2 separate regions of the Homo sapiens genome follow, and region 2 is linked to region 1. The links come from fine-mapping of genetic effects on gene expression. A gene starts in region 1. The other region holds a variant in brackets. All regions are shown on one strand. Distances are from middle to middle.

Region 1 (5,516 bases):
GATGAAAAGATTGGGAAGTATTGTTTTCATTCTCATTGTTTTCACTGTCATGCTCTTTGTGCCAATGGTTAGACCTCCTTTGAAAGCTCACTGCAGCATGAAAGCCCTTCTTAATGCCAGGGCAGGCTCCCCAAGCCTCCCCACCCCACTGTCCATGTCATCAGTTTTGTACTCCTGTTTTGTATGGCTCAGGCTTTCCTTATACTCTTAGGAATGAAAAGCCACAGACACCACCACTGAGAGACTGTCAAAGATCCTTGTTAAATAGGTGGACAACTGAGATCAGAGAAGGAAAGTAATTTTATTACTTTCCGTAGCAATCCAGGGGTAGCATCTCAGGTCTCTGGCTCCTTCTTGTCTCCCCTAAAGAAATAGACCACCAGGGCTGGGATTAAGGTGAGACAAGTGAGACATAGAGGGTGCAAAATGTAGAGAGATGCCCGCTGCCAGGTGCCAGCCTGCACTTGTGTGACCCTAGGTGCCTTCCCTTCCCTCACCCTGCTGGTATCTGCTGGAAACACCTTTGAGAGCAGGGACTTTGGCTTTTAGACAACTCTTTAGCATCTCTCATGGTGTTAACATGTTGCTAGGTGCCTATTTTGAGGGTCACTAGATGCCTACTGATACTAATGAACAATGGATTTCTGACAAACTGATGTGCACACAGATGTTTATATTTTAGGGTAAATACGAACCTTAAAAGACAACAGAACAACATGGAGAGGGCCTGAGACTGAGTCTAGAGACCTGGATTCTGGTTCCCTCCCTGCCATCAGTTGGTTATGGGAACTTGGATAAATTGCTCCTCATCTCTAGGCTTCAGGGAAATGAGGTGGTTGAATAAAACGTATTGAGCACTTACTGTGTGTCAGCCATTGTTCATATGCTCCCAGGCTTTAACTCAGCTAAAGACTTCCTGGCCTCTGTGGTTCCTTCCACTTCAACAGGCTGTGGTTTGAGGTGGGAAGACTTCGTAGAGAATGCAAAACTTGAGAGACATCTTCCAAATTCCCAGGGGGATGTTAATACCTTTAATCATAGTAAAGGTATGGTTTCTCAAGGCATTTCTTGGTCAGAAGAAAGTTCCAGAAGGCACTTAATCCTAGGACTCACACTACCAAGGCTACAGCCAGGCCAACTGCCTCACAATAACCTTAGAACATGTCTGAAGACAGATTTTCAGCTTCTGCCCCTAGAGATTCTAATGCAGTGATTCCAAAGTGGGGTCCAGGAATCTGTATTAAAGGCTTCCCAGTTGACTCTGGTGGTCAGAGAGATTTGAGACTGATTCCATCACATTCCCCATCTGTGAACGGGATCATACCTAGACAGCCCAGCCCTAGAACTGCCTGGTCTGATCCTAAGTGTTCCATGGAGATTTTGTTTTTTTAATGTAATGAATGATTAAGTCAGCAAATACTTTACATCTCTTGTGTGCTAGGCCCTGTGCCAGGTGGTGATTATGGGCCCTATTCTCAAAGGACTCCTGGTCTCCGTCTGTCACTTACTTTAGAAACAAGTCATCTAGCCAGAGCCAGAAGGGCACTGGAGATCACTAATCAATCCCATCATTACATAGCTGAGGAAACTGAGGCCCAGAGAGTAACTGCAACATGTTAAAGACTACACAGGGAGCAAATTTATTTTCTGCTTCTAAGCCAGGTGGTTTGGCCACAGATAGGCCAAGAAGAATACGAACAGACAAGCCTTGCTGGGTTTCCCACTCAGTTTATTACTATTAGACCATTCCCTTTTTCCCCACTCACATTTCTGCGCATTTCCATGGTCTTCATAGAATCTAAGCCTAAAAATAGAGTTTTCCTTGAGTCTTTGGGTCTTCATTTCTGAAGACTCTCATGTCACAGAAAACTTTAATTAAATAAATCGTTATGCTTTTCTCTTGCTAACCTTTTTCTACAGGCATGTCAGCTGTGATCCTTATGATGGGGAGGAAAGGCACCCCACCTTCTCTGTCCCTACAGTCCTAATGCCCTACCCAGAATGGGGTTTTCAAAATCCCAGGACACCCACTCTTTGTTTCTTAAGCACTAAACCTATATATAGTAAATGTTTCTGGAAGTTTAACTTCAGCTCTTGCTGAAATTTTAAACCCTCAATTTCCAGAGGACCATCGCCAGGTGTTTTTAAAACCTCGATAGGAATAAGAAATGCTTCCCAGAATGGAGACTTCCATCAGTTCTAGGGAGCTATTAGCCCCCTTGCCCTGGCTGTAATGGAGACCGCTGTGTCTGCCTCCTTTCGCACTTTGGAGCCAAAAGAGGAAGGGACCGCCTCCCACGTCCACAGGGACCTGACTTCCACCTCTCTGCCCAGATTTGCTTATGTCACTGTCGCCCCGGGACGGGGAGGTGGGGAGCTGAGGGCAAGTCGCGCCCGCCCCTGAAATCCCAGCCGCCTAGCGATTGGCTGCAAGGGTCTCGGCTTGGCCGCGGATTGGTCACACCCGAGGGCTTGAAAGGTGGCTGGGAGCGCCGGACACCTCAGACGGACGGTGGCCAGGGATCAGGCAGCGGCTCAGGCGACCCTGAGTGTGCCCCCACCCCGCCATGGCCCGGCTGCTGCAGGCGTCCTGCCTGCTTTCCCTGCTCCTGGCCGGCTTCGTCTCGCAGAGCCGGGGACAAGAGAAGTCGAAGGTGAGTGAGCCTCCGGGCCGGGGGCCGGGAGAAAAAACCTAGCCCCTCGGTGTCCAGCGCTCAGTGCAATGCACCCCTTTTCCCAGGCTCCCCGCCAGATGGGCAATCCCCAGGTGCGAGAGACCTCCTGAACCCCTTTTGCCGCCCCCTCCGCCGCCGGGACCCCGCCCCCGACCGTCGTCGTCTCGTAGTTCCATCTGTTGGAGAGCCGAGACCTGGTGCTTCAGGCGGGCAGAATGACTAAGGGAGGAAGGTCTCTCTCCCCGAGCTCGCACTTTCTCCCCACTGCCACCTCGAGGGTCGCCTTGCTACATCTATGTCACCTCCGTGCCTGAGCTGCTCCCCTTCAGTAGGGCCTAAGAGGGAGGGCGTCACAGAAAAAAATGCCCAGCGTCTGGGTGGGCTGTGCAAGTTCCCAGGGAGAGAGACAAGGAGAAAGGAGAGAGGCAGCTGGGTGGTCCTGGTCCTGAAGAACTGCTGTGGGGGGCTCTTCTACCCCAAGAATGATACAGGCAGGTAGAAATGGCCACTTGGATTCAGGGCATTGGTAGAAGAGGCAGAGATCTGTGCTAGAAAGAGCTCTGGAGTGACAGTGCAGAACACTCAGGACCCTGAGTCCTTACCTGCTCCTGGACCCCCGTTTCTCCATCTGCAGGGGAGAGTTTGGGGGTGGGAGTGCATGGGGCACAATGAAGCTGAGGGCCTCAGAGGGGATGCTTGGAGAAGCTGAAAAATCCACAAGCTGTTCTCTGAAATTTCCTCCCCTGGGGCAGCCTCACTACCCAGGACCCACTGTCCTCATTAGCCTGAGGAAACCTGGTAGTTGGAGAAAGCTGGGGACTGCTAATTCAGAAGAAGAGGTAGAATTCTCTAGAGCCTCAGTCTATTTCCAGCAGGTGTGTGGCCCACACCTGGAGTGGGGATACTGAGGCCAGGAGTGGGATGACCCAGCATGCTTATCTCCTTTGACAGTATGTACTGGGGTGGGCTCTGTAGACCTCTCCTCTACCCAGGGAGTGGGAGTGGGTGGGGAAGGAGGCAGAAGCCAGGTGTAGGGATAGACTCAAAGCGAGCGATTTCTGTCTCCAACTTCCCAACATGCATAACTCACATTTTTGCAAGCTCTGAGCTTTTGTTTCTAAAATCCTCTGGGTCTTCACTTTAATTAAGTTCTTATGAGTCTAGGATTCCGTTTCCAAAATTCTGTCCACTTCTCAGGAAGCCCATTGGAAGCACAGGGTTCCTTCCATGTTACTCACCCCTTTTCGGTCCTCAGCCTAAATCCGATTAATCAGCCTCTCCTTGGAGTCAGTCTAAATGGATGTGAAGCCACTTCGTCCAAGTCCCCTCCTTTTTATCCATCCCTGTTCATAATCCCCAACTCAGAAGGCATTTTCCAGGTCAGGAATGGGATCGATTTTCAACATTGAGGTTTGGGGTGGGCCATAGACAGGCCAGCACCGTGGAGTCAGTCCCAACCTTCAGTTTTGGAAAGGTCAAAGAAGATACAATTGGGCCCTGCCTCAAGAAGGCTAGTGGGGAGAACGTGGACTCCATGAATAACTCATCATAGCTGTGTCTTCTCTGCAGCACTCTGGGGAAGGATAAATGGACTCAGAGAGAATAGGATGGGGATGGTCTAGAAAAGTTTTAGGGTGAGGTGTGATCATATCACATACAACCAGTCAGGACTTGCTGGCTAATGAAAGCCTGGGCATGCCCATCTCTGCTCCCAAGTTCTTAGAGTTCAGATGTCTTAGCTCTGGGTTAGGACCCAACCACTCACCTTACCCCCAACCCCAGGGTAAAGAGATAGGGTTATGGGGCATGTGGAGAATGGAATGGACGAAAGGTGACTCAGCCCCAGAGAGGTGTTTTCCTCCTACCAATTGAAAGGGAGATGCTAGGGAAGAGACCAGGTCCTCCTCTTCTTGCTGCGTCACCTCCCCAGTCCAACTTCAGGCTGCCCACGCTCCTTGTCTCTACAAAAGGACTGCAGAAGCCGGAAAGAGTGACAACTGCTGACGTGCACGGGATCCTAGTAACTGCTGGTTTCTAGGTGACTAAACCTGGCAGAGAGAATCATGGAACCACAGGCTGACAGAGTTAAAGGGCCCTTAAGACAGCCCTGAACCTGACTCCATCTTACAATGGAGGAGCTGGAGCCCCAGCAAAGGGGGTCACATGGCATCAGAGACACAGCAAAGCCCAGCACTCAGGTCTCCTGACTCCCAGACCACTTCTCACAGCATCATATTGATAGGAGTAATAAGACGGGAGAGGAGAAAGACACAAGACCAGCAGCCCCAGCCAGCCAGAGTCCTGGCTGAGTCCCATCATCCAACTCTCAAGCCATTGGAACCCTCTTCTCTTGCCCGGCTGTGGGAGGATTCAGGCACCCTCATGGCCTCTCCCCTTATCTCCTCTGGCCACTGTTTCAGATGCGGTGCTCTGGGATTCCACGTGCCCAGAGAAGGGAAGGGGGCTCATAGAGGACTGAGTTGCAGTGATCAGTGGTGAGCACAGCCGTGGCTCTCCACCCATGGGCCACCTTCTGACCCCCACTATCCCTTGACATGAGATTTCGTTCCAAGAGACTCCAGGCCTGTTTTGCTCTGCCAGCAGATTCCCACAACCATTTTGGGCAGCAGCATGCTTATCTCCCTGGACATATGCCCAGACAGTGTAAGTGACTTGCTCAGGGCCACACAGCCAGCAAAAAATAGAACCTAATGAAATAGGGTTCTCCTTGCCACACCCCCAAGCTGAAACTGTGCCCAGAAGCTGGTCCTTCTGTTTACAAGTTCCCATTATTAGGACAACCTGTAATCTTTTTTTCCTCCATGTCTCAGAGTTCATTTT
Region 2 (5,000 bases), 32 kb after region 1:
CTATGCACACAAGACCTTCCGGATATATCCAAACACTGCATTAAATAACCCTGGATCACATTCTAGTGAGAAAGTGACACCCTTTCCAATTATCTTCACATTTCTTGTGTAGACCACGGAGACGGTGCGAGCTTGGTGCTAACAGGCCCTGGGCACCTCTCTAGTTACTCGCCAGTTTCCCTCGTTAACACAGAAGGTGCAGGCTGCAGGCCCAGAGCCTTCAATGTGCAATGATCCTTAGCCTGAATTTATTAACATCCTTTCACTTTCATTGTATTTAGAGTTATCTTCTATTTATCACAGGTAATGCTGTTTTCCATTTACTCTAGTTAAAGTTGCCTTTATAATTTTAAGTAAAAAGATGAATCAAATTAAAGTAAAATTCTAAGTAACTAATAAGGCAGGTGATAGAGGAGATCATAAAATTAGTGATGTGGATTCAGGTCTGACTAAAATGTTTCTTCTTTCTTTTTTTTGAGATAGGGTCTCGTTCTGTCACCCAGGCTGGAGTACAGTGGCCCAATCTCGGCTCACCACAGCCTCGACTGCTCCTACTCAAGTAATCCTCCCACCTCAGCCACCCCCAACCTCCCCCACCACACACCCCCACCCTCTTGAGTAGCTGGGACTACAGGCACACCACCACACCCAGCTAATTTTTTTGGTATTTTTTGTTGGGGCTGGGGGAGGGGTGGTGATGTATTTCACCAGGCTGGTCTCAAACTCATGGACTCAAAGCAATCCTCCCGCCTTAACGTCCCAAAGTGCTGGGATTACAGGTGTGAGCCACAACGCCCAACCACCACTTCTTTATGTTCTATTTGCCAGCTGAGTTTCCGCTTGAAAAACCAATAAGTAAAATGACTTTCCCAAGGTCATACAGCAGAGACTTGCATTCTTGCCTTCTAATCCGTGACTTTTTTCCCCAGCTTCAGTTTCTGAATCCATGGATGGGGTCACTAGGGCTATAAAAACCCCAAAAGTGCATCCTTGGCCATCCAAAAGCAAATAAATTACACACTGATTCAAAATAGCCAGTGGCTCAGTAGTTAAACATTACTTCTGTGGCCATACTTACAAAGTTTATATTCCTTCTCTTTCTGTTGATTCTAATAAGAAACAGGAGAGGAGGGAAAAACAGAGTGGCAAGTCCTGTCTGTGACACGGGCCTTTCCTATGTGCCTGAGCCCAGCTGGTACCCACCAGATGACTCATCACCCAAACTGTCCAGGACCACAGTGCAGGCAGGAATTGTGGCCACTCACAGGATGGAGAGCAAGGAGGCCCAAGTTCCTGTTGTAAGACTCCAATCAAGTCCCTGCCTCTCCCTGGGCCTCAGTTTCCCCTCTGCACAGTGAGAGGTCTGTCTGCATGATCTCCAAGGGCTTGTCAAGCTCTGACAGTCAAGATCAGTGTTTCCCAAGGCGTGATCCTGTGCCTACCTCGTTCATAATCACAGAGACTCCTGGTGAAATGCAGGCTCCTAGGTCTTGCCTAAGACCTGTCAATTCAGAATCTTGCAAAGGAAGGAAGGGAAGGCGTATAAACTTGTAATGCCTTTCCCTGACCCTCAACCCTCAGTTAAGTCTAAGCCCCCTAGTCCAGTGGGGGAGCTCTCATGTTCTCAGGAAGACAGAGCAGGTTGGGATGGTGACCAGCAGGAGGCAGCAAAGTCCTGAGTCCTCTGGACAGCCAGTTCACCGTTAACAGGGGAGAGAGGCAAGTGCTGGAGGAGGAAGGAAGTACAATCTATGCTGACCTTCTTCTGAAGCTCTCAAGGCACTCTATACACCTCCCAAGGTGGCAAAAGGGCCAGAGAGAAAATACCAAAAGAGCCAAGGAGAAGGATCAAGAGACGTAACCTCCAAATAGGGCTCTGGGCACAGGGCCTCAGAGCCACGGTCCTCAACCCAGAAATCAGTGCTGCACACCAGCCCCTCCTCCTGCAGCCCCCACTCCTCACCCCTTCTCTGAGGGGCCTGAACTTACCGCAGCCTCTCGGCAGCCTGATCCCGCTGTTCCAGGCCCTTATCCAACTTGGCCTTCAGAGCCTCGTTCTCCTTCCGAAGCTGCTCACACAGGGTCTGTGGGGCAGGGGAACAGACAGGGTGAGGGAAAGGAGGGGCCCCTCCCAGGTGCAGGCTGAGCTAGAGGATGGTGGGGGGCCTGTAGCCACCCCAGGGCCCAACTCCTTATCCCCTTTGCCTGGCCTCACCCCATCCCTCTCTAAGGAGCTAAGCCACTTGGCCACCCACGTGTCCTCTCCCTTGGGAGCCAACTACGGAGAAGCCTGACCAAGTATCAGCCATGGGGCCTTCTGCTCCTCCAAGACAGACAGCTCCATCCCTTCTCCTTCATCCCTGCTCCCACTGCCGGGACCCCTATTCCCCACCAGCCTCCCCCAGCTGACTTCTACCCTTCTTTGAAGTCTTAGTTTAAATCCCATCTCCTCAGAGAAGTCCTCCCTGACTCCCCGATCCAGCTACATTAGGCTAACTCCGTTATCCTTGCTCACAGCCCCCCGCTTTTACGCTTCTCAGCACCTGTGGCAGATAAAGCTAAAGAACTGTTCGTGCTGCTGTTTTCTTAATATCTACCCCCTTACCCCTAATTAATTCCTGAGCTCCCGGAGGGCTGGGACCCCTAACCATCCTCTTGTTCACTGCCAGATCCCCAGCCCCCAGCTCAAAGTTTGTGGAAGGAACAACATGACTGAACAGCCAAATGAGCAAATGGACAAATGAGCAGGCGAGTCCTAGGGGGGCTGAAAGGCACACCAATTTGCAGGTGTGAGAGGTGCCCAGTGTTGCCAAGGGGAAAACCAGAAGACAAGGCATTCAGTCGGGACCTCACTATGCCCTCACGCCCTCACAATGTGGCTGTGACACTTGGTTCCTCCTCTACAAAAGAAAGACAACTG[T/C]TTCTCTTTTTTTTTTTTTTTTTTTTTTTTTTAAGACAGAGTCTCACTCTGTTGCCCAGGCTGGACTGCAGTAGCATGATCTCAGCTCACTGCAACCTCCACCTCCCAGGTTCAAGAGATTCTCCTGCCTCAGCCTCCTGAGTAGCTGGAACTACAGGTGTGTGCCACCATGCCTGGCTAATTTTTGTATTTTCAGTACAGACGGGGTTTCACCATGTTGGCCAGGCTGGTATCAAACTCCTGACCTCAAGTGATCCACCTGCCTCAGTCTCCCAAAGTGCTGGGATTACAGGCATGAGCCACCACACCTAGCCCAGGGACAACTGTTTCTTCTCTGCCTCCTCTATAGGGCTGCTGAGAGGGACAGATGAGACAGTGAGAGTGGAAGTGTCCATGAACCATCAGTCACTTGCTTATGTGCGGGGACTCATATTGGAAGCTCTGTGAACTGGGGGCATGGAAGAGGGGTCGCCAGACTCAGGACCTCACAGGCTGGGGGGAAGGGAAGGTGCTGACTAGCAATGCTAGCATACAGTGTCAGCACAGAGTTGTTCAATCTTTCCACAGATCCTCACTGAGCACCTCACCTGTGCCAGGTACATTGCTCGGTGTTTCTCCATATACTGCCTCACTGGTGCCTCACAACTTCCTCAAAGCTAAGTAACTCATCTCTATGTTAAAGGTAGGGAAACCAGGTAAAATGATACAGTCTAACAGGTGCACAGCTGCTAAGACTCATCACTGGCGGGGAGTAAAACTCCAATTGGCAGACCCCACACTGGTGTCTCTTTCCCCTGTGATGAAAGATCAGAGAAGGGAGAGAGATGGTGCCCAAAGGAGGGGACAGCCTTTGAGCTGGGCCAGGACCAGGGCCATTCACTAAACAGCCATCTGCTGCCTTCCACCTCCCAGGCCTGTTGCAGGTGGATGCAACCATGTGACTAGTTCTGGCCAACAAAAGAGGTGTAGAAGGGACAAGCATCACTCCTGGACTGGCCTACGCACAATTCTCCAGTCTCTTTTTCCTGGTAGCAGGGGCTGATGTGGATGCCTCGTATTCTAAAGGGCACCGGAAAGTTGGGCCCCTGTCTCCCTGGGACTCTAAGGAACTGTGTAGAGCAGAAACAAACCCCTGCCACACAGAATAGGAGGGAAAACTTTTGTTGTGTAACCCAGGGAGATTTCAGAGTTGTTTCATTTCTGACTCACAAAGGAGACTCTTGGGAAGGCTGAATGGAGGACACAGCCTTCAACTGGAGGTGGCTGGACAATGAGGGAGATGAGGCTTAGCAAACAGAGAACCAGCTGGGCATGGTGGCTCACACCAGTAATCCCAGCACTTTGGGAGGCTGAGGCAGGAGGATCACTTGAGCCCAGGAGTTCAACACCAGTCTGGGCAACATGGCAAAACCCTGTCTCTACTAAAAATACCAAAAAATTGGCCAGGCATAAGGGCGCATGCATGTAGTCTCAGCTATTCAGGGAACTGAGGTGGGAGAACTGAGCCCAGGAGGTCAAGGCTGTAGTGAGCTGTGGTCGCACCACTGCACTCCAGCCTGGGTGGCGGAGCAAGACCCTGTCCCCCAACACCCCTTAAAAAAAAGAAATCAAAAAATTATTGTTATGAGTCCATTCAATGCCTAGCAGAGAGCCTTATGCTATACCTGACCTTGAATATGTTTGTTTAGTGAACCAAGAAACACATCAGTGAATGAATGAGGAGGAACTGGATCAATACACCTCCACCCAGGCAGTAAAAATACCCAAGATGCCATGTCTCTGGGCGAGGCCTCCAGGGAACAGAATGGCCTGCTCCTAGTCCCTAAGGGAAGGCCAGGACAAGGCCTCACTTGCTGTCCTACCCTTGCAGTCTAGAGAGCTGTTTCCTTGGAGTCTCTGGGCCAATGCCCTGGGTGCAAACCGGCCAATGGATAGAATCATCAGAGGTCACAAAGATCATCACCTTCCATCCAAGGTGCTACGAGAGCTATGAGTTCATTTGATCATTTATTATTTTGTCCTTTCATTCATTCACCAAGTGTGTATGAAGTGCCACGAACTGGGACGCAACAGTGAATAC

The links. PIP is the estimated chance that this variant, and not a neighbour inherited with it, causes the effect.
Region 2: its variant is fine-mapped to the expression of GPX3 in whole blood (TOPMed, PIP 0.96).

What each region holds. Positions count from the first base shown.
Region 1 is chr5:151,018,088-151,023,603 of GRCh38, forward strand. GPX3 (glutathione peroxidase 3) reads left to right here and starts at 2,504. Exons shown (of 5, transcript NM_002084.5): 1 at 2,504-2,654. The coding sequence starts at 2,568. RefSeq lists an enhancer at 3,949-5,148.
Region 2 is chr5:151,050,176-151,055,175 of GRCh38, forward strand. TNIP1 (TNFAIP3 interacting protein 1) reads right to left here. Exons shown (of 18, transcript NM_006058.5): 7 at 1,990-2,084. Among named protein-coding and RNA genes, the nearest start is that of TNIP1, 28 kb to the right of the region's middle. The variant T/C (reference allele first, on the strand shown) is at 2,921.